Regions from separate parts of the Homo sapiens genome. Here all the other regions are linked to region 4. The links come from fine-mapping of genetic effects on gene expression. A gene starts in region 4. Each other region holds a variant in brackets. All regions are shown on one strand. Distances are from middle to middle. Region 1 overlaps USP20 (ubiquitin specific peptidase 20). Region 2 overlaps ASS1 (argininosuccinate synthase 1). Region 3 overlaps FNBP1 (formin binding protein 1). Region 4 holds the start of FNBP1 (formin binding protein 1).

The links. PIP is the estimated chance that this variant, and not a neighbour inherited with it, causes the effect.
Region 1: its variant is fine-mapped to the expression of FNBP1 in whole blood (TOPMed, PIP above 0.99).
Region 2: its variant is fine-mapped to the expression of FNBP1 in substantia nigra (GTEx, PIP above 0.99).
Region 3: its variant is fine-mapped to the expression of FNBP1 in whole blood (INTERVAL, PIP 0.95).

Annotation. Positions count from the first base shown.
Region 1 is chr9:129,876,569-129,881,713 of GRCh38, reverse strand. It overlaps USP20 (ubiquitin specific peptidase 20), which reads right to left. Exons shown (of 26, transcript NM_001110303.4): 23 at 3,274-3,376; 24 at 2,070-2,141; 25 at 1,425-1,601; 26 at 1-1,247. The coding sequence ends at 1,441. Among named protein-coding and RNA genes, the nearest start is that of MIR6855, 9.5 kb to the right of the region's middle. The variant T/G (reference allele first, on the strand shown) is at 2,358.
Region 2 is chr9:130,484,600-130,489,744 of GRCh38, reverse strand. It overlaps ASS1 (argininosuccinate synthase 1), which reads right to left. Exons shown (of 15, transcript NM_054012.4): 12 at 281-412. Among named protein-coding and RNA genes, the nearest start is that of ASS1, 42 kb to the right of the region's middle. The variant G/A (reference allele first, on the strand shown) is at 2,970.
Region 3 is chr9:129,894,183-129,899,327 of GRCh38, reverse strand. It overlaps FNBP1 (formin binding protein 1), which reads left to right. Exons shown (of 17, transcript NM_015033.3): 16 at 3,332-3,490. Among named protein-coding and RNA genes, the nearest start is that of MIR6855, 27 kb to the right of the region's middle. The variant A/G (reference allele first, on the strand shown) is at 2,503.
Region 4 is chr9:130,040,576-130,045,720 of GRCh38, reverse strand. FNBP1 (formin binding protein 1) reads left to right here and starts at 2,532. Exons shown (of 17, transcript NM_015033.3): 1 at 2,532-2,769. The coding sequence starts at 2,746. RefSeq lists silencers at 2,270-2,829, 3,010-3,169.

The DNA of each region.
Region 1 (5,145 bases), 160 kb after region 4:
CCTCTGGCTGCAGCGCCGGCTTTCAGAAGGCTGGGGCCAATGCCAGGGGAACCCCAGGCTCAGCAGGGAGGGAGCAGGATCTGGGACAGAAGATCCGAAAAGTGAGGCCTCAGGGCCTCTGCGGGACCCACCTGCTGGAATTTCCACCACCACCTGCTTCTACAAAGACTGATAGAAACAAAGACGCAGTAGTGTGGGGGGTCTGGTCCCAGAGCCCCTTCCCCACCCACGCCCCGTCTGCTTTGATCCTGATGATGGTCGCACCTCGCCCTGGCGGTTTCTCCAGGGGCTTTGGTGCCTTGCTGTGCTCAGTGGCTCCCTCCACTCAGCATCCAGAGGCTGCTTCCCAGGATCCACCTGAGCGCTGCACCCTGCACAGCCCCCACATCCCTCCAGGTGGGCTCTGCACTGCTGCTGCTGGGAGGAAGGGAAAGTCTGTCTTCTTTAGCATCAGCTCGGGAAGCTGCCTTTGCCTCAAATGGCCAAGCTGTGAGGTATCCCTGTTTCATCATCCGGTTCCCTGGTGGGGGCTCAGCAAATTTCCCATGAAGATGAACTGCTGAACTTCGAGGCAAATTACAGCCAATCCAGGGGGCAGGCTCAGCAGGACGCGGTGTGGGGGACCAGCTGCCTCCAGAAACATCCCCCACTGGCAGAAATCCAACCTCCTCCTGGTGTTCCAATCAGCAATGAGTCCAGAGTCTTCAGTCTGCAGGAGAAGTGCTGAGAGCAGCCCGGGACTTCAGAGCCTTCCTGGTGACGCCCAGGAGATGCAGAGGTGCGGCGGGACCACCAGGGAGGACCTGTGAGCTCCTCACTGGCCAGGGCTTCTGGCTGCGCTCACCGGCCCTGAGCAGCTCCCTCCGAGTCTTCGGGGCTCCGGGCCAATCGCACAGTGGAGACGCCGTGAAGCAGCAGCTACTCCCTGACTCTGGCCCAGGCCGCAGCCTCTGTCTGACAGGGGTAGCATCGGGCTCCAGGGACAAAGCTGGGCCGAGCTAGCAAGAGGACAGTTGTGGGGGACACAACGATGACAGTGACTGGCAGAGGCACTGCCAGGACAAAGACCCAAATTAACGTCACAGAGTCTTGGTCGTTTCAACAAGCCTGAAGTGCATATATTTTCTAGTTGCAGCGTTACTGCAAACCAAACCAACTTTTCTGCCTCTTTACACGGCGGGGTTCTGCAGCAGCCCGGCCTCTCTTCTGGGCACAAACACGCCTTCCGCGGGGTGGGGCACATGGGGCTGTGGGGACACGGGCACTCAGCAGTGGGGCCGGGCCATGTCCAGGGCCCTCCCACATCCTCCAGGAAGGTGCTTTCAGGGACCTGCTCTTTGGATGTTCAAAAGGACATGTGAGGGTCTCTGGAGAGTGAGGAGAGGACCCAGAGTGCCATGGAGGGACCAGCCGGGGCGACTTACAGACTAGCCCAGCAGATCACACGGCCCGCGTCTCGGCTTCGATCTTCTGCTCCCCGTGCAGGTTCTCTGGGCCCAGCGGCTGCGCCACACTCTGGCGGATGGCAATCTCGGGGCCACCTCCATACAGGCTGTTCAGGTAGGTCCAGGTCTCCTCCGAAATCTGCCCGTAGTCAGCTCCTGCAGGGCACGAGAGGCACCCCTAGGCTCACCTTTGCCTCCTCAAGGAAGCCACCGGCCTGGGCAGTGGGGGCTCCGCAGGGCCAGGCCCCGAAGCGGGAAGACGGCAACCAGGGCTTCTATGCAAAGCTGTCAGATGGAAATCAGGATTTCCCAGAGGAATGTCCATCCCGCTAAGGGCCCCGGATAACACATCTCTGGCTGTGTCCCTTGTTCCTGGGGGTGGGGCTGACATAAACAGCAGGGTGGGCAAGGCCAGCAGCAGGCAGAGGGGTGGGACCTGGAGGACACAAGCAGAGACCAAGCCCCTTGGGCCATCTCTCAGCCGCCTGGGTCTGGACTCAGGTGGACGTCTCAGCCTGACTCTAAGACAGGTGGTAAGGGGGCTCCTGGAAGGACGGGACTGGGCAGCAGCCTGGCAGCCAGGAAGGGCAGAGAGGAGCCTGGCTGACCCCAGGGGGAACTCACCCTGCTTCAGCTGGACATGGCCGCTTCCTTTGACCTGTGCAATCCTGCTGTTGTCAATGGGCCCGGGGGGCTCTGCAACAGACACAGCGGGCTCGGGTTCAGCCCCTGCCATGCCCTCCACCCTCCACAGCAGCAGAGCCATCCCAAGTGGGGCCGCCCCAGGCCTGGGGGTCAGCGTGAAGTCTCTAATGGATGAGGCGCCTGAGCCACCCAATGCTCCTCTGTGGCAGTCTGAGGACCCAGCAGAGGGAATTTCCAGGACACACGAGATGGTCTCAGACTCTGTGC[T/G]GGCCGCAGGAGCTGCGGTGGATGGCCCATGCCCTTATCTCTGCTGGCAGCTGCCGCTCACCACGCCCCTTCCCCTCTGCCCAGCTATCTCATTTAGCCTCGGCAACCACAGGACAAGACAGAGGTTTACAGAGACAGAGCCGAGGCCTGGGAAGGTGAAGTAACCACTCAGGTCATAGCTGGTAGAAGGCAAGGCCAGCGTCCAGGCCAGGGCGAGGGCTCCGGAGCTACATTCTCAACCACAGCCATGCTGAAGGCCTCAGCCACCACCAGAGAGGCCTCACGGTGGCCCTGGCACCTTCCCCGACTAGCGGGATGGCAATGAGGCCTCCCTTCCCAAGCACAGGTGGGTGCTCATGCTCCACACCAAGGGTCCCGTGAGCAGAACCGTGGGCTCTACCCACCCTGCCGGGCCCCGGAGCCACAGGTTAGATTATGCCCCGAGGGCGCCCCAGCCGAAATTTTTAATGCAGGTTTAATAGTTTAGAGCCTGTGGGCTTCCATGGCTTGGTTCTGCTGTTCTTCACTGGGGACTTGGGGGACCCTGGGAGCTTGTGATGGGGCCTGTCTCCACCTCTGTAAATCCAAGGAGTCAGATGACAAATCTGTCATTTCGGGCGACACACTCCCCTGAGGAAAGGGCCTTGCAGGAGGGCAGAGCAGCTTGCTGGGCATGGCAGGGAGTGGAGAAGGGCAGGGGGCGCAGAGCAGGAGCAGCTTCCTGCCTCTGGGTGGGGACAGTGATCCCCACTGGGGACTGGCAAAGCCCCATGCTCTCTGTTCACCCTGGATGGGTGGCACCTGGGGGCAGGCATGGGGCCTGCAGGAGCCCCTGTGTGCCAGCCCTCCCCTGCCAGCATCCCATCTCCCAGGAGGCCCCCAGGGCAGGTAAGTGCCAGGTCCCCCCTCAGCTCACCGTTGTCCTTCCCCTTGACGAACGCCTCCCACTCCCGGAACCACTGCATGCTGATGCAGTAGATGACGCCCGGCGACTCCTCGGCCTGGAAGGCCTTGTTCAACTGGCAGGCGGGCAGGGACGGGAGGAGACAGAGGGCAGGTCAGTCTCTATTTACCTTCAGCAAGGATTTCCCAAATGCCCCCGCCCCAGTCCCTCACCCAAGAGTCTTACAAAAACACCAGATACTCAAGGTGAAAAATCAAACCCCCAGACAAGCTCAAACAAAATGAACACACCCATCACTCAGAGAGGACGGTGGTAACATTTTGTGGGTCTCTTCAATAACTGTTTGACCCAACTGAGACCACAAGGGAGATTCTACTTTTTGAGAAGGAATCTCACTCTGTCACCCAGGCTGGAGTGCAGTGGCGCGATCTCGGCTTACTGCAACCTCTGCCTCCCAGGTTCAAGCGATTCTCCCACCTCAGCCTCTTGAGTAGCTGGGATTACAGGTGTGTGCCACCACCTGGCTACTTTTTGTGTTTTTAGTAGAGACGGGGTTTCGCCATGTTGGCCAGGCTGGTCTTGAACTCCTGACCTCAGGTGATCCGCCCACCTCGACCTCTCAAAAGTGCTGGGATAACAGGCATGAACCACTGCGCCCGGCCTGGGAGATGCTAATTTTCTCCGGTTGAATAGAATGTGCCTATCTGCTCAGAGAGGCAGCTCTCCTTCTGACAGGAGCATTTTCTTTTTCGAGATGGGGGGTGGTCTCACTCTGTGCCCAGGCGGGAGTGCAGCGGCGCAATCATGGCTCACTGCAGCCTTGACCTCCTGGGCTCAAGTGATCCTCCCACCTCAGCCTCCTGAGTAGGTTGGACCACAGGTGCATACCACTAGGCCCAGCCCTGACAGTCTCTTTTTCGTTTGTGTTCTGAGACAGGGTCTCACTCTATTGCCCAGGCTGCGGTGCAGTGGCATGATCACGGCTCACTGCAGCCTCAACCTCCCAGGCTTAGGTGATCCTCCCAACTCACTCAGCCCTCCAGGTAGCGGGGACTACAGGTACACATCACCATGCCTGGCTAATTTTTGTATTGTTTGTAGAGATGGGGTTTCGCCATGTTGGCCAAGTTGGTCTTGAACTCCTGGGCTCAAGTGATCCACCTGCCTCGGCCTCCCAAAGTGCTGGGATCACAGGCGTGAGCCACCATGCCCAGGCAGCAGAATCATTTCCTAATGGCCACAAAGCACGGGCGTCCCTCAGTGTCTCTCACCAGGCCCTCCCTGTGAGTGGAACACGTCCTAACCCTGTTAGAAGTAGCGTGGCAGGGAGGGAGTGCGCCAGGAGCCTCGCCTGCACTCAGCTCCCTCACAGAAGTCCCTCTTCTAAACACAGTCACACTTGAGTCCTGGTTTGCACCTTGGTTTTCACTTCCTGCTTTATCTTGGGCAGTCTGTAGAGCCCAGTGGTTCTCACCCAGGGCAGGGAGGGTACTCTGCACCCCAGGGGACCCTGGGCAATCTCTGGAGGTCATTTTGGTTGTCACTAGCACTAGTGGGTAGAGGCCAAGAATGCTGCTAAACATCCTACAATGCACAGGACGGCCCCACAATAAAGAATAATTCAGCCCAAAATAACACAGCCAAGGCTGAGAATGGGATCCATCTACTGGTTCTTTAAGCTCAACAGCACCCGGGCGATGAGGCTTCACTTACTCAAGCCAACCCTCCCACCAGGAAAAGCCCTCCTAGACACCTGGCCATCTAGTTCCCCGCAGAAGACTCCTTTCTTTTCTTTTTCTTTTTTTTTTTTTTTTGAGATGGAGTCTTACTCGGTTGCCCAGGCTGGAGCGCAGTGGCACAATCTCAGCTCACTGAAACCTCCGC
Region 2 (5,145 bases), 440 kb before region 4:
TGTAGGGGGTGGAAGCTGCCGGACACCTTGGGAAGCCGGTGCATCTCCCTGGACACACCCCATGGCAAGGCAGGTTCTAGCATCCCCTTGCTCCCTCATGCCCTGCACTTTCCCTCAACCCCCTTTGGCCTGCACCTTTTGGGGTCTCACATGAGGATGGCAGTGGGCGGCAGGGGAGGAAGGTGCTGATACGGAGGGGAGGGCCAGGCCCGAGAGCCTGATAGTACTTTGGGATCCCTTGTGAGGCGGTTAGAGGGGGCAGCCATAGAGTCTTACGCACCGGTATACACCAGCTCAGCAAATTTCAAGCCCAGGCCTTGTTTGATTTTGCGCACTTCCCGGTCCATGGTGAAGGCCTCGATGTCTAAATGAGCATGGTAAAGGATGGTGCCTGCTGGGGTCTCGTAGATACCTAGCCATTTTTCCAGGCAGGGGGAAAAGGAGAAAAAAGAGAGAAACGCATGAAACCCAAACTGTCAGCAAATGACAAAAAAAAAAATAATAATAATAATGAGTCGTCTGACAGGAGACAAGCCGGCCGGACCCATTCACTCCCAGCTTGCTGCAAAATGCATCTGTCATTATGTTCATGCTGGGGCCACGACAGTCCACTCTGCGGCTTGTGGAGAAAATGTCTAGATGCCCCCTTTGAAGGGGCCCTCAGACGCTAGAAAATGACAGGGTTTCGGAGCAGCAACCCCTCCCTCCCCATGCGTGCCCACCGGCCCGAGGTTGAAAGCCTGTAATTAAAGCGACTACGGTAGAGCCCAGAGCCCCAAATATCCCTTCTTCCCTTCCACCAGGGAGCCAGGGGAGGGGGACAGCTGTGCACATACATGTACACATGTGTACACACATGCCACCTTCAGCCCATGGGGCCCCTGCGGCCAGGTCTCTCCAGAGGCCACTGGGGTGGCAGAGGGCTTGGGCAATCACCTAGGCTGACCGCACCGTGCAGATGGGGAAACTGAGCTCAAGAGGAGAAGGGACTTGCTCTAGGTGGAGCTGGGAACTGAATGTAGGCCCCCGAGTCCCTCACCAGTGCTGTCTGCTGCCCTGTAAGTCACCTGGCCGTGGAGGCCCAACCCTGGAAGGTCAGGGGAGAAGGGATTGCTCAAGTCCCCTCTTGTGACCTCAGGCCCAGTCCCTCCATTTGGAAAACAACCTGCTTGGAACAGATGATCTCCGAGTGAGACAGAAATGCCTGGTCTTGGGCTGAGCTGGGTCTGGGGGAAGGTCCTACTGCATTGGAGGACAGTGGGGCACCAAGAGGCAGGACCGCCCACAGCACACAGCCCAGGCCCCCTCTTGCCCCAGGAGTGCGACCTCTCGCATCAACTTCAGAGCTGGCCCTTGGGCAAGCCTGCCCTGCAGCTGCTGTCTGGGTGGAGCAGGGGCCATAGCTCCCCCATCTCCATGGATTCTACCCCGAGAGCTTCCTTTCTTCCACCATACGTTACATCACTAAAAGGGCAGGTTCTCAGTTATCCTGGGAATTTACTAACATCTTTCTACAGTGGCTGCTTGAAAAAAACCCAGAAAGGATTTGTACACTCATGTTCATAGCAGCATTAATCACAATAGCCAAGAGGCGGAAGCAACCCAGGTGTCCATCGAGGGATGAGTGAAGAAGCAAAATGCAGTCCATCCATACGATGGAATATTATTCAGCCTTAAGAAGGAAGGGGGCCGGGCACAGTGGCTCATGACTGTAATAATTCTAGCACTTTGGGAGGCCGAGGCAGGTGGATCACCTCAGGTCAGGAGTTCAAGACCAGCCTGGCCAACATGGTGAAACCCCGTCTCTACTAAAAATAACAAAAAAATTTAGCCGGGCATGGTGGTACATGCCTGTAGCCCCAGCTACTTGGGAGGCTGAGGCAGGAGGATCACTGGAGCCTGGGAGGCAGAGGTTGCAGTGAGCTGATTTCACACCACTGCACTCCAGCCTGGGTGACAAAGCAAGACTCTGTCTAAAAAAAAAAAAGGAAGGAAATCCTGACACATGCCACAGCATCAACATAAGGCCGTGACGCTAAGTGACAAAGGCCAGGCACAAAAACAAACACTGTATGTTCCACTCATGCGAGGTCCCTCGAGTCATCAAAATCATACAGCCAGAAATGGTGGCTGCCAGGGGCCGGGGTAGGGAAAATGGGGAGTTTCATGGGGCCAGAGTCTCAGCTTTGCAAAAAGAAAATGTTCTGGAGGTGGACGGTAGTCACAGTGGCACAGCCCTGGGAAAGGACCTAATGCCGTTGAGCGGCACGCTTACGCATTTTAAAATGGTTCATTTTATGTTACATGTATTTTACCACAGTTTTAAATTAAAAAAAAAAAAAAACCATGAAGGATATTGGTTTTGACTCTGAAGCCTACCGGGGATCTGGGGAGGCTGAGTCTGCTGAGCCCTCGTGCACTAACCAGAAGTTTCCTCCTTGGAGAACTCCTCCAGTCTTTGATCTTTAAGTCTTAGAATCACGGAAATGTCAGAGCTTGCATTAGGATCAATCCGGTACCGTGTTCTCCCGACTGTTAGCTGCCAACCTAATATTCAAACAGCCTGCGGCAGAAGCCCAGCATATAGAAGAGATGGCAGAGGTTGTGCTGGGAGGAACAGAGGCCCCTCTGCAAACTCTGGACTCACCTTAAATCTAGTCCCACACACCAGTTTTACAAATGAGAACCTGAGGCCTGGGGAGGGGGGTGGCTTGCCTAATACCACCCAGCCAACTGGAGGGGGAATGGGCCCGGCCCCGGGGTCTCCCATCTCAGCTCCAGGTGGCCTCGAAGGGCCTTTGGCAAAGTGATCAACTGCTAACCAGAGCGTGAGAGAAAAAGCCCAAGTCCAGGCTGTTGCTGTGGAGGAAAAGCTTGGTTCTCACCATGGCTCCGTGTTCCTGGGCAGAAGGGAACCTCTCTGGGGGCTTGGTTCTCTCATCTGTAAACCCCTGATATACTGGTGTCAG[G/A]TGACATGCTTGTGAAAGCCCCTCAGAGCAACCAGGTGCAAATATGAGTATCGTGTGCTGTGAAAGAGCCCATCCCGCTTCATTGGTGGGGGCTGCAGCCTTCGGCATGTCCACCGTCTGAATCTAGTTGTGACCTCTGATTAGGAAATGGCCTCTCTCCAAGTTTATGCAGAGATCCAAGCCCTCAAATCCCTCGGGAGTTCCTCAGGCCTCACCGTGACTCTTGTAAAACAGTTCAAATGGGTCCGTCATCATTTTCTGCAGAGTAGCTCAGAGCCACAAACCAGGAAGGGGTAAAAAGGCTGATGGCAGCAGAAACAGAGGAATGACTGAGAAAAGTCATTATAGACAGCCTGGAGAACAGGGACATAGAACTTAGCACAGGCCAGGTATGCGGGGGCTCACACCTGTAATCCCAGAACTTTGGGAGGCCAAGGAGGGAGGATTGCTTGAGCTGAGTCCAAGACCAGCCTGGGCAATATAGTGAGACCCCATCTCTACCAAAAAATTAAAAAAATTAGCTGGGCGTGGTGGCATGTGCCCGTGGTCCTAGCTACTACGCCAAGGTGGGAGGATCGTTTCAGCCCAGGAGTTCAAGACCAACCCAGGCAATATAGGGAGACCCCGTCTCTACAAAAAAATGGTAAATTAGCTGGGTGTGGTGGTGTATGCTAGGTGGGAGGATTGCTGGAGCCCAGGAGGTTGAGGCTGCAGTGAGTCATGATCGTACCACTGCACTACAGCCTCGGTGACAGAACAAGACCCTGTCTGAAAGAGAAACAAAACAAAACATGATGACCGCACACAAACATGACAGTGCCAAAAAAGCCACCAGAAAGGGGAATGGTTCAGCAGTGTGTCCAGAAAGACCAGTGTGTGCAGAAACAGGAAATCTCTGTCTCCAAAATGGCAGATATAACGATAAAGTTCGAGGAGCAAATTTTCAATCAGCCTAGAAACCTTATTACCAGAAATAAAGCAATTTCCCAAGAGCACGACACTGACAAAGTCCTGCTGGTCCTCCATCCTGGCACATGCTAGAACTGGATACATATCGGGTTGGAAACAGGCCTTCTAGTGATTAGTTTGGGTACATTTTGGAAAATTCCAGAAACTTGCAAAGCCCATCCTTACACTGGCCACAGAGTCGTAATGGCGCCATCCTGGGTAGGCCGGTAGCAGGAGCCCTCCTCATTTTCAACTCCTAGACACCCAGGCCCGCCTCCCTGCTTTTCTGTCCTCAGCTCGGCCAACTGTAGGGCAGTCCAAACTACATTTGCAGGGCTGGAGCTGGGCACCAGGAGTCCTACAACCATGCTTTACAGAAAGTGCCCAGCTTGGCCTTTACAGAAGGTGCCCAGCTTGGCTTTGCTGTGTGACTTTGGCCGGTCTCAGCCCCCTCTCTTAGACCCAGGCAACCCATCTGGAAAACAAGAAGGCTGCAAGTTCCTGCTGCTCTGACATTCCAACTTCCTTTGGGACCTACCTCAAAGGTAAGTGTTCAGAGCGTCCTCCAGGTGTGCCCTACTTACTGACAGTCTTGTCTCGAGAACATTCGAGGCCACAGCATCGCCTCCCATCAGTCCAGAGAGGGGAGGGCGCAGGTGGGGTTCAGGGCTCGAGGAAGAGCTGTGACTTGTCCAAGGTCCTCCAGCTACTGGCCCATCACAGGTGTCCCCAGGAAAATGAGGCCAGTGCCACCGGGAGCAGAGAATGTCTGGTGGGCAGAGGCCAGGCAGAACCCTCCTCTTCCTGAGCCCCCAGCACCGGCTTCCTGGCTGCCACCCTCCCAGGCAGCCTCCGGAGGGCTCACGGGCAAGGGGAAAGGCTGCAGCCACAAAACACACCAGTGCAATTAATATTCCTGCTCCTTTTCTTCGAAAGTGTTAATTGTGACGGATCAAAAAACTTGTTTTTAGGTTGCTGCCGACGCGCGCGCGCGCACGTGTGTGTGTGTGTGTGTGTGTGTGTGTGTGCGTTTAAAGCTCTTCCCTCTCCTCTCCACAGGGGTAGGGGGTACAGATGATTTCTGTGTGTTTCTTCTGGAAAAAAAAAACAGTGACAGAAACCTGATGCTAAAAGACTATGAATTTGGGGCTTTTGACAGTCGGCATACAAACCACTGCGCAGAGAGAAGGAGGAAATGACAGCTGAGCCTCTGTGTTGCCGTGGAAGA
Region 3 (5,145 bases), 150 kb after region 4:
GGCGGGCAGGTCACTTGAGGCCAGGAGTTCAAGACCAGCCTCGCCAACATGGTGAAATCCCATCTCTACTAAAAATACAAAAACTGGCTGGGCATGCTGGCAGGCGCCTGTAATCCCAGCTGCTCGGGAGGCTGAGGCACGAGAATCACTTGAACCCGGGAGGCGGAGGTTGCAGTGAGCTGAGATAGCGCCACTGTACTCCAGCCTGGGTGACAGAACGAGACTCTGTCTCAAAAAAAAAAAAAAAGCTGCAGCAGCAGCCTTCCAGATCCTTCTCTACTATGCTTTTATCCTACTCATGGTATGATTATTATTTGGTTGTATATTTTGACTTTTGGTTCGTATAACTTAACAGCTTCCAGAGAGCTTGCTTCACTGCAGCAGACGATAGGGAGGATGATCATTTCATCCATTCATTTAATATCTAGTATCTATAGCGCTCCTGTCTTGTAAAGGCCCATGAAGTGGGGGGATGCAGGTCGTATGATATGGCACCTGCCCAGAGGGAAATCAGGCAGACACACTTAAGGAGCAAGCAGCGGCTGGGTGCAGTGGCTCACGCCTGTAATCCCAGCACTTTGGGAGGCCGAGGCAGGCGGATCGTGAGGTCAGGAGATCGAGACCATCCTGGCCAACATGGTGAAACCCCATCTCTACTAAAAATACAAAAATCAGCTAAGCGTGGTAGCGCATGCCTGTAATTCCAGCTACTTGGGAGGCTGAAGCAGGAGACTCACTTAAACCAGGAGTCGGAGGTGGCAGTGAGCCGAGGTCGTGCCACTTTACTCCAGCCTGGCAACAGAGCAAGACTCCCTCTCAAAAAAAAAAAGCAGGCAGTTTGCAGTGTTTGCCAGAAGAGGGATACAGAGGAACGGGGAGGACAGGGGAGAATGAGGTCGCTTCCTTAAGGAAGTTTGGAGAACTTGCCATGGCATGGGGGGTGTGGCCAGAAATGGGTGTGGTGTGGCTGGAGCTTAGATGTCTTAAGTCCTAATAGTGAAATGTGGCACTAAAGAGTGGGAAGTGCCAATGGGGGCGAGGTAGGGAAACATCTGGGTTTTATGTGGCAAACATTGAGGAGCTATGGGAGGTCCCCTAGCAGGGTGTCGATGCAGTCAGAGCTGTACCTTAGGAAAGTCATCGTCAGATGTGTAGGATCCACTGGAAGACATGGAGGATGGTTAGAAAGACTAGCCCAGGCCGGGCATGGTGGCTCACGCCTGTAATCCTAGAACTTTGGGAGGCTGAGGCAGGCAGATCACCTGAGGTCAGGAGTTCTAGACCAGCCTGCCCAACATGATGAAACCCCGTCTCTACTAAAAATACAAAAATCAGTGAGGCGTGGTGGCGGGCGCCTGTAATCCCAGCTACTCGGGAGGCTGAAGCATGAGAATTGCTTGAACCCAGGAGGCAGAGGTTGCAGTGAGCCAAGATCGTGCCATTGTACTCCAGTATGGGCAACAGAGGGCAACTCTGTCTCAAAAAAAAGAAAGAAAAGATAAACTAGCTTAGTGTTTCTAAACCAATGAACCTTGAAACGATGTCCTGCAGAGCGTTAATAAGGAGGCCATGAAAGAAGCTCTCAGGCCAGGCTCAGTGGCTCACACCTGTAATCCCAGCACTTTGGGAGGCTGAGGCCAAGAGTTCAGGGCTACAGTGAGCTATGATCGTACCACTGCACTCCAGCCTAGGCGATAGTGTGAAACCCTCTCTAAAAAATAAATAAATAAATAAATAAAATTACGAAAAAGTTGCATTTTAATATAATGAATAAATTTTTAAAACTAGCAATCAGAGCTCAAGTAAGTTTGGGAAGCCCTGGGATAAATAAATTTTACAGATTTCTTTACTACAGGACTTTTCAGAGCCTTTAATAGACTAAATGTTCATTGTGACAAAATAAGAAAGACGTACCAGTTTAAACGTTCCCAGTTTTACTTCATATTCCAACCATCCCCCACCGTACCCTGTTGCCCTGTTAACAGCTCCCTAAACTCTTTGCCTTGCAGAAAACTGGGGGGTGGTGGGCAGCCTTTGAAATGATCCTAGCAGAAGGTCTTGGGGGCCTTGTTCAAGGAATGGATACAGAGATGCCGCCATTGACAAACTGCATATATTCGGGGCTGATCAAAAGCCAGGAACAAAAAGGAGAGGAAATCCAAGACGGCTCCCAGAGTTGCATTCCTGGGAGGACAGAGAGGTCTAGGGAAGTGGAAAAGCAGGAGGATATAGTTAGGAGGAAGAACAGTGAATCCAGGTTCATCTATGTTGTTTCAGGTGTTGGGGCCATGTCTAGGTGGCAGTGTGCTGCAGACAGTGGGAAAAGTGGAATCTTGGCTGCAGAAAGTACCAGAATGGAAGCAATATGTGAGGACAGTGTTTAAAGAGGAGCAGTTGGGCCGGGCGTGGTGGCTCACGCCTGTAATCCCAGCGCTTTGGGAGGCCGAGGCGGGTGGATCACCTGAGGTCAGGAGTTCAAGACCAGCCTGACCAACATGGTGA[A/G]ACCTCGTCTCTACTAAAAATACAAAATTAGCCGGGCGTGGTGGCACATGCCTGTAATCTCAGCTACTCGGGAGGCCGAGGCAGGAGAATCACTTGAACCCGGGACAAGTGGCATCACACTCCAGCCTGGGCAACAGAGCAAGACTCTGTCTCAAAACAAACAAACAACAACAACAAAAAAATTGGGAGGCTGAGGCTGGTGGATCACCTAAGGTCAGGAGTCAGACCAGCCTGACCAACATGGTGAAACCCCATCTCTACTAAAAATAGAAAGGTTAGCCGGGTGTGGTGGTGCACACCTATAGTCTCAGCTGCTCGGGAGGCTGAGACAGGAGAATCGCTTGAACCGGGGAGGTGGAGGTTGCAGTGAGTTGAGATTGCACCACAGCACTCTGGCCTGGGCAACAAGAGCAAGACTCCATCCCCCACAACCCCCCCAAAAAATAACAGACAAAAGAGAAGCAGTTGGAGCCACGAGGGTACCTTTCTCCTGAGAGAGATCCAAGTGAGACAGAAGAAGACTAGAGAAGAGAACCAAAGATTTATCCAGTGAGAAATACTTACCATTCTGGGAGGGAGGAGAAAGAGGGCCCTGGAGGACTTAGAGAGGGTCCCTAGAGAGACAGAGGTAAGAACCTGGACATTTCTGTGCAGAAGGAGATGGTTTTGAGGCAGTGGGTGAGGGGTCCGTGCATCTGAGAAGGTCCGAGTGGGGTGAATTTTGTGTGGACTTCATCTTCGACGACACTTGTTTCATTGCGAAGGCCACTGTTTGCTTCCTCCCTGCATTTGCCAAGACATCTAACATATCCTGATATTGCTTTTTCAGGTCAGAATGAAGGAACGATTTCCGTAGTTGAAGGAGAAACATTGTATGTCATAGAGGAAGACAAAGGCGATGGCTGGACCCGCATTCGGAGAAATGAAGATGAAGAGGGTTATGTCCCCACTTCATATGTCGAAGTCTGTTTGGACAAAAATGCCAAAGGTGCTAAGACTTATATTTAATACCATAAAAAAAAAAAACTTAAAAAAAATGGAGTTGTTTCTCCCCACAACCATGACTGTTACAGGCAGTTCCTCAAGAGACTGGCTGGCAAGCACCATAATGCACGTTCTCCTGTAGTCTCACGTGGACTTCAGGGTCTGGGCACCTGAATTGCCTTGTCTAGTTTGGGCTGTAATCAAGTTTCACTTGCTGATGAAATTTTATGTGGAAAGCTGCCAACCGCCAACTTACAGCTATGTCATTCAAAATCTGATAAACATTTCTTCTTTTGGCGGTATCTGTAGATTAAAAAAAAAGTTGCATTGTAGCTTCTCATCTTTCTGAATTTAAAAGCCGGCACGCATCATGCAGGTGCCAAAGACTTCCCTACTCTTGTTTATATCTAGTATCCACCATACACTGAGCTACATTAGGTGGTTACAGATTGTAACTTAATAAACTGAACTGTGTTAGTTTGTTAAATTGTATACTCATTCACTTGGGAGGAAGTCACAAGTGAAATAACATCTCCTTCTTGACTAAAGCAGTAAATAAGATTCTTATATTGGCACCAAAAGTGTGTGTTTTTACTTAAACCTGGTCAGCATCCTTGGTAGGGCATCACGAGTACCCTGTTCCATCTACATGATCCCAGACAACCAGCTGAAATCTGGAAAAGTTTGGTGAATTGACCACTTGATTTTTACATTGCATTGCTGATTTTCCAAGTGTCATCAAATTGACAGGTTTTTGTTGTTGTGTTTGTGTTTTTGTTGTTGTTGTTGTTTTGAGACAGAGTCTGGCTCTGTTGCCCAGGCTGGAGTACAGTGGCTCACTGCAACCTCCGCCTCCCCCAGGTTCAAGCGATTCTCCTGCCTCAGCCTCCCGAGTAGCTGGGATTACAGGTGTGCACCACCACGCCTGGCTAATTTTTGTATTTTTAGTAGAGACGGGTTCGCTCTGTTGGCCAGGCTGGTCTCAAACTCCTGACCTCAAGTGATCTGCCTGCTTCTGCCTCCCAAAGTGCTGGGATTATAGGCGTGAGCCACCGCACCTGGCCCAAATTGACAGTTGATCAGATGTGCTAGTGCTGTTTAGATGGAGTTACTTAAAAGGCAGAGCGTGTCCCTGCATCAGCTCCTTTTGGCTGTGATTTCCTCTCACACTTGGTTCGGTTTCTGTTGGTTTTCCAAGTAGAGCTGCACTCACGCTTGCCCAGGTGGGGCTATAAAGAGAACGTGGTGTGGCAGCAAATGCTTCTCCCCACAGACACAGATCTCAGCACATTGCTGTTCAAAGACTTTGGGGGTTTGCTTTTGTTTTTTTGTTGTTGTTGTTTTTGTTTTGTTTTGTTTCTGCTTTTAATCATTGGCAAGGTTTGGATTTACTGGAAATTATTTTAGAATTTCTGGCTCATTTTATACAATTAACTGTAGCCAGAATGAAGTAAAATGTCTCACCACATCGAAAGGAATCTAGGCCACATGAGAATTTGCATTTTTAAATTGGCATTGATGTGGGAGGGGAGATAGTGAAGTTGGTCACATGCGTAGATGGTTGCCAGGCATTTCACTGTGCCCATTTCCAGAATCCACCCCGAGATCATAGACAACCCACTACAAATGGGTCAGAATGAAGGTGTTGGGTCAGATTCT
Region 4 (5,145 bases):
GACACTTTCAAGCATTTTCCAGTTACTGCCAAAGCTTAATGAAGTTAAAGATATTTGCAGTGTTGTATAATTAACTCACATCCATAGAGTTCTGCGGCAGCTTTTAATGGGTTCCTTCCTATAACTAACAATCTCCTGCTTACTCGTCTTAAAAAGTTTCATCTTCATGTGGTCTCTTTTTTTCTTCTGCTGTCCCTTCCTCTTCCTCTTTCTCCTCTTTAAAGCAGCAGGTTGTTTTACTTCTTGATTAGAGTATTTTCACAAGTGGTCACTGTTTTTGAGAAGTCTCCAATAACTTGGTCAAGATTAGATCATTGTATTTGACTAAAAAGTCAAGCCCTGGCAGGAAGGTGATTACTGAGGCAATGTCTTGTTAGATAAACCTGCATTGCATGTACCGTTTCCAAATTTTAGCAGACTAAACTGTGCAGCATTGTTTGAATTTCCCCCTCCAACTCACTCTGGCTATTAATCTGCCTTAGGAGATAGGTAGCTGGCCGTTCTCATTGTTATATATCTAGCAGTCTCTGGAGGAAAGAGAATTCAGACCTGGTAACTGAGAGCAAAATATTTATACAGACACAAGAATGGGGGTGGGCAGGAAGGGAGGGTTGTAACTGAAAAAAGGCAGACCAAAACAGTTTTGACAACTTAAATTTATTGTAACTGCCCAACAAAGGAAGTAGAGTTGGAGGTTTATCTGCAAGAGGTTTTTTTTTGTTTTGTTTTTTGTTTAGTAGCTCCACCTCTTAATTTATTATTATTATTCATTTTATTTTATTTTTTGAGACAGTCTCGCTCTGTCACCCAGGCTGGAGTGCAGTGGCACAATCTTGGCTCACTCCAACTTCTGCCTCCCGGGTTCAAGCGATTCTCTTGCCTCAGCCTCCTGAGTAGCTGGGATTACAGGCGCCCTGTCACCACGCCCAGCTAACTTTTGTGTTTTTAGTAGAGACGGGGTTTCTCCATGTTGGCCAGGCTGCTCTCAAACTCCTGACCTCAGATGATCCACTCACTTCTGCCTCCCAAAGTGTTGGGATTACAGGCGTGAGCCACCATGCCCGGCTTTAATTCATTATTGTTAATATTTTTGAGACAGGGTCTTGCTCTGTTGCTCAAGCTGGAGGGCAATGGCACCATCATGGCTCACTGCAACTTCAACCTTCTAGGCTCAAGCGATCCTCCTGTCTCAGTCTCCCAAGTAGCTGGGACCACAGGTGCATGCCACCATGCCCAGCTAACTTTTTTTTTTTTCTTTTTGTAGAGACAGGGTCTTGCGATGTTGCCCAGGCTGGTCTCAAATTCCTGGCCTCCAGCCATCCTCCCACCTGGGCCTCCTGATGTGCTGGGATTACAGGCGTGAGCCACCAGACCCGGGTTAGCTCCACCTTTTAATGGAGGAGAATGATAAGCAGGTTGAAAATGGTGGGGTGGGATTGGAGAAATGCATCATCGTAAAATATTTTTTAACTGGGGGCCCATGTTGGGAGTCGCACGGTTTCTCAGAAAAGGATCCAGTAGTAGCATTAACCGAGGGAGAAAGATAAGCTGTGGGGAAAGGGCTAGTGATTCAGGAGTTGGAATTCCAAACATTTTCCATAGCTTGTCAGGAACATTTGTGCAGACCTTTGGATATATAGAGAGGGAGTCCGTCTGCTGATAAAATGAGCGCTGGGTTTACCAACCTTCGGCCTTGGCCCACCCCTGATCCTCACCGCCGGGCAGTGAGATGGACACGTTATTTGCCTCCATTTGGTGGACTGCGCTCTGCGCTTCCAGAGGTGGAGCAATTGTCCGCCTCCGCCCGGCCAGCACGTGCGGGAGGCTGGATTTGAACCAAACAAGTTATCTGTGTACCCCACGCCTTTGCTTTTACCCACTAGGCGGTAACGTGATTTCACGCCTGAGAGTTTCTTGGCTGAACAAGTTGGAAATCACTGGTTTCAGAGATTGGAAATCACTGGGTGCACGCCCCTGGATTCTTTCCCTAGCCACTCGAGGCCGTCGCGCTTGCCTCGACGTCTCTATTCGCACAGCGCGCAGTTACCACCGCCCCACTCCCACCGCGCCAGCCTGCGGGACTCTCGGGCTTCCCTCGGGCGGTGGGAAAAGAGCCTCCCGGGCTGACTCTGCTCGGCGCGCATGGCTGCCAGGGGAAAGTATTGTCCTTAAATCCAGAGCGGCGATACGCGCAGGGGAGCGATCTCAGACCGCGGCGGAGCATCGGTGATCCCAGGGCCTGCCGCGTTCCAAGGCAAGCGCTAGTACTGCGAGCAGACAGTGGTCACTAAGAAGTCATTACCAGATTGGCAGGGGGAGTCCTAGGGATCCGGGTCCCGCCGTCCCTCACACCTCCCTCCGCGTCCTTCCGGACCCCAGGGCGACGCGGACCCGGCCGGGGGAGCCCGGGGGAGGGGGCCGGGCCGGGGTGGGGCGGGCGCGCGTGCGCGAGCTGTCAGACCGGCCCCGCCCCTCCCCTCCCGCCCCTCCCCCGCTCTCCGGGTGTAGGGCGGGCGGGCGCTGCGGCGGCCGCGGCTGCTGCTTCCTCGGGCCATTTTGCTGTGGAGCGGCGGGGAGGAGGAGCCGCCGAGGAGACCCCGGGCGAGGAGCTGCGAGCCGGAGGAGGCCGCGCGGACTCCGGGCTTTCCGCCGTCGCGGGGATCTCGGGGGGCAAAGGGATCGCCGGGGAGGGGGACCAGAGAGCCGCGCCCGCCGCGCGGAGCGCCCCTTCGCGTCCCCTGCACCATGAGCTGGGGCACCGAGCTCTGGGTGAGTGAGGGGCTGGGCCCGCGGGCAGATGCGGGGCGCGCGCTGCGTTTCCCCGCGGCCTGGGGAGGGGGCGCGGGCCGCGCTGCTGGGCGGAGGCGAGGGCGCGCTGGTCGGGGTCCTCGCGGCCTGGGGAGGAGGCGGGGTTCCAATGCCCCTCGTCCGCCTTGGCCCGAGCAGGAGGTGCGGGCCGGCTTGTCCTTCGGAGGCGAGGGGAGTTGGTGCGGGTCCCCGGCGGCCTGAGGAACGGCGCGGGCGGGCCTCCCTGTCCCCGGCGCCCCGGAGCGGGCCGTGTGTGTCGGGCCGAGCCCTAATCCCCCGGGGCGAGCCGCGGATGCCCGGGGAGGGCCGGGACCGGGCGTGGGGGCGTGGAGGCCCCGGCTGCGCGGCGCTGCGTTGGGTCTCGGGGCGCCCCGGCCGCGAGTTCTGTCCTGGCTCCGCGGAGGCGCTGGCGGATCGGGCACTTCCCCGGGAGCGGGGCGGCCGGGGCGAGCGCCGGGGGTCGGGTTTTGGGGTGCTGGGGCGAGAGTGCGGTCTTCGCTCTGGAGGCGAGGACTTCTGGCCCGTGGCGGCTCCGGGCGCACTTGTTCTTTCGGGGTAGCTCAATCCTGAGTGGGATGTGGGCACTGCGACGTCTGGTCTGGAGGGGAAAGTGGGAGTTAGGGAGAGATCTTACGTGATCTACCTCAGGAAGAGGCGTTCGCGGGGTCAATGATCTTTAACGGTTGCTCGGAGAATAGTTTCCAGTGGGGAAAGTTGGCGGTGAGGGGCGCCTTGCGGGGATGCTTGGCCGGGGGATGCGCACGGTAAACGGGCAGCCCTCAGGGCTGAGGGCCGTCCCCGGAAAGGCGAGGGGCTGGCTGTGGATGGAGCTCTTTTCCTGCCGTCCCCGGATTCCTGGGGAAATCACTGGGCAGGGGATGGGCAGTGCGGCGGCCCGGGAAGGAGCAGACGAAATCTCAGTTACTGCACTGAAATGCCCTCAAGATGAGCCATTTCCCAGGATGAACTCTAAAGTGCCTGAACTACCTTTTGGAATTCTATTTGCAAAGGGTGTGGAGGAGAAAGTGTAGGGTGGTGTTGCTATCTGAGATGAGGCCAAGAAATCTCATATCAAAATAAAACAAGGTTAGAGCAATTACAGAAACAGAGCACATCCTCCCTTGTTTTTTGTTTTGTTTTCTTTTGCTTTAATTGTTTTTACATAACCATTTGTTAGGTACAGAAGCAGCTACGGTTGTTATTACCAAAATCCTGAGGGCAATAGCTCCCTTAAATTAAGATAATTCATTTTATAAACATCTTCTGCCTAAAAGGGATTCATGACAAAATTTCCGCTGATGTTTACAAGTATCCATTTTGAAAATAAAATAGTTTAAAATATTTGCACACACCAGTTTAGGCAAAATCTATGACTTTGAGTACCGTATTGAAGTTTCTTTCCTCTTCTAATCCTTCCACTCCCTTTAGCTCTCTTTAGCTTATCTGGGGTGGGGAAGCAAATCAGAAGTAATCTTTGTCAAGACAGTAGAAATTGTGGCACAATTTTTTTTTCACTTGTTCAGACAGGTGGATGGAATTATGGAGGGAAAATGTACAATATATTTCTGAGTGAAATAGGGACCGAACACAATACCTTGGTGGACAGTTCAGTGATGTTGGTGAATGGGATAGAATATAATTCCAAAGAGAGGCAGTGGCTATGAGCAAAACTGCTAAAACAGCGGCAATTGCTTGCATTATTCTGTACATTTCTTTTTGAGGGTGCAGAAGTGGGAAGGAAGGCAGGGTTAGGAGTGATTGAAAATAAATGAGAGAGGCCGGGCGCAGTGGCTCAGGCCTATATTGCCAGCACCTTGGGAGGCTGAGTCGGGAGGATCTTTTGGGCCCAGGAGTTCAAGAACAGCTTGGGGAATATCTGGAGAGGCCTCCTCTTAAAAAAAAAAAAAAGAAAAGAAAAAAGAAAAAAGAAAAAAATAATAAATGGGAACTGGAATATATACAAATATTAATGATATGAAATCTTATATTTGCTTCACAATAATTTGGGTTGTTAGTAGATGGGAGATAGTGAGACAGAGTTGGCCATTATTGAAGCCAAATGCTGAGTACAGAAGTATTCATTACACTATTCTTTCTAGTATATATATTTGACATTTTCTACAATAAAAATAATTGGAAAATAGTTTTAAAGGAGAAGGATGTGAACTATTTGTAATTTTTTCACTTGACAATTTTATGAGGAAGAATGAATCAGTTAACAGTTCTATATATGCAAGTGTATGGCAATGAGGAGTTTTTAAAAAGACATTCTTTTTTTTTTTTTTTCTGAGACGGAGTCTTGCTCTGTTGCCTGCCCAGGCTGGCGTGCAGTGGCGT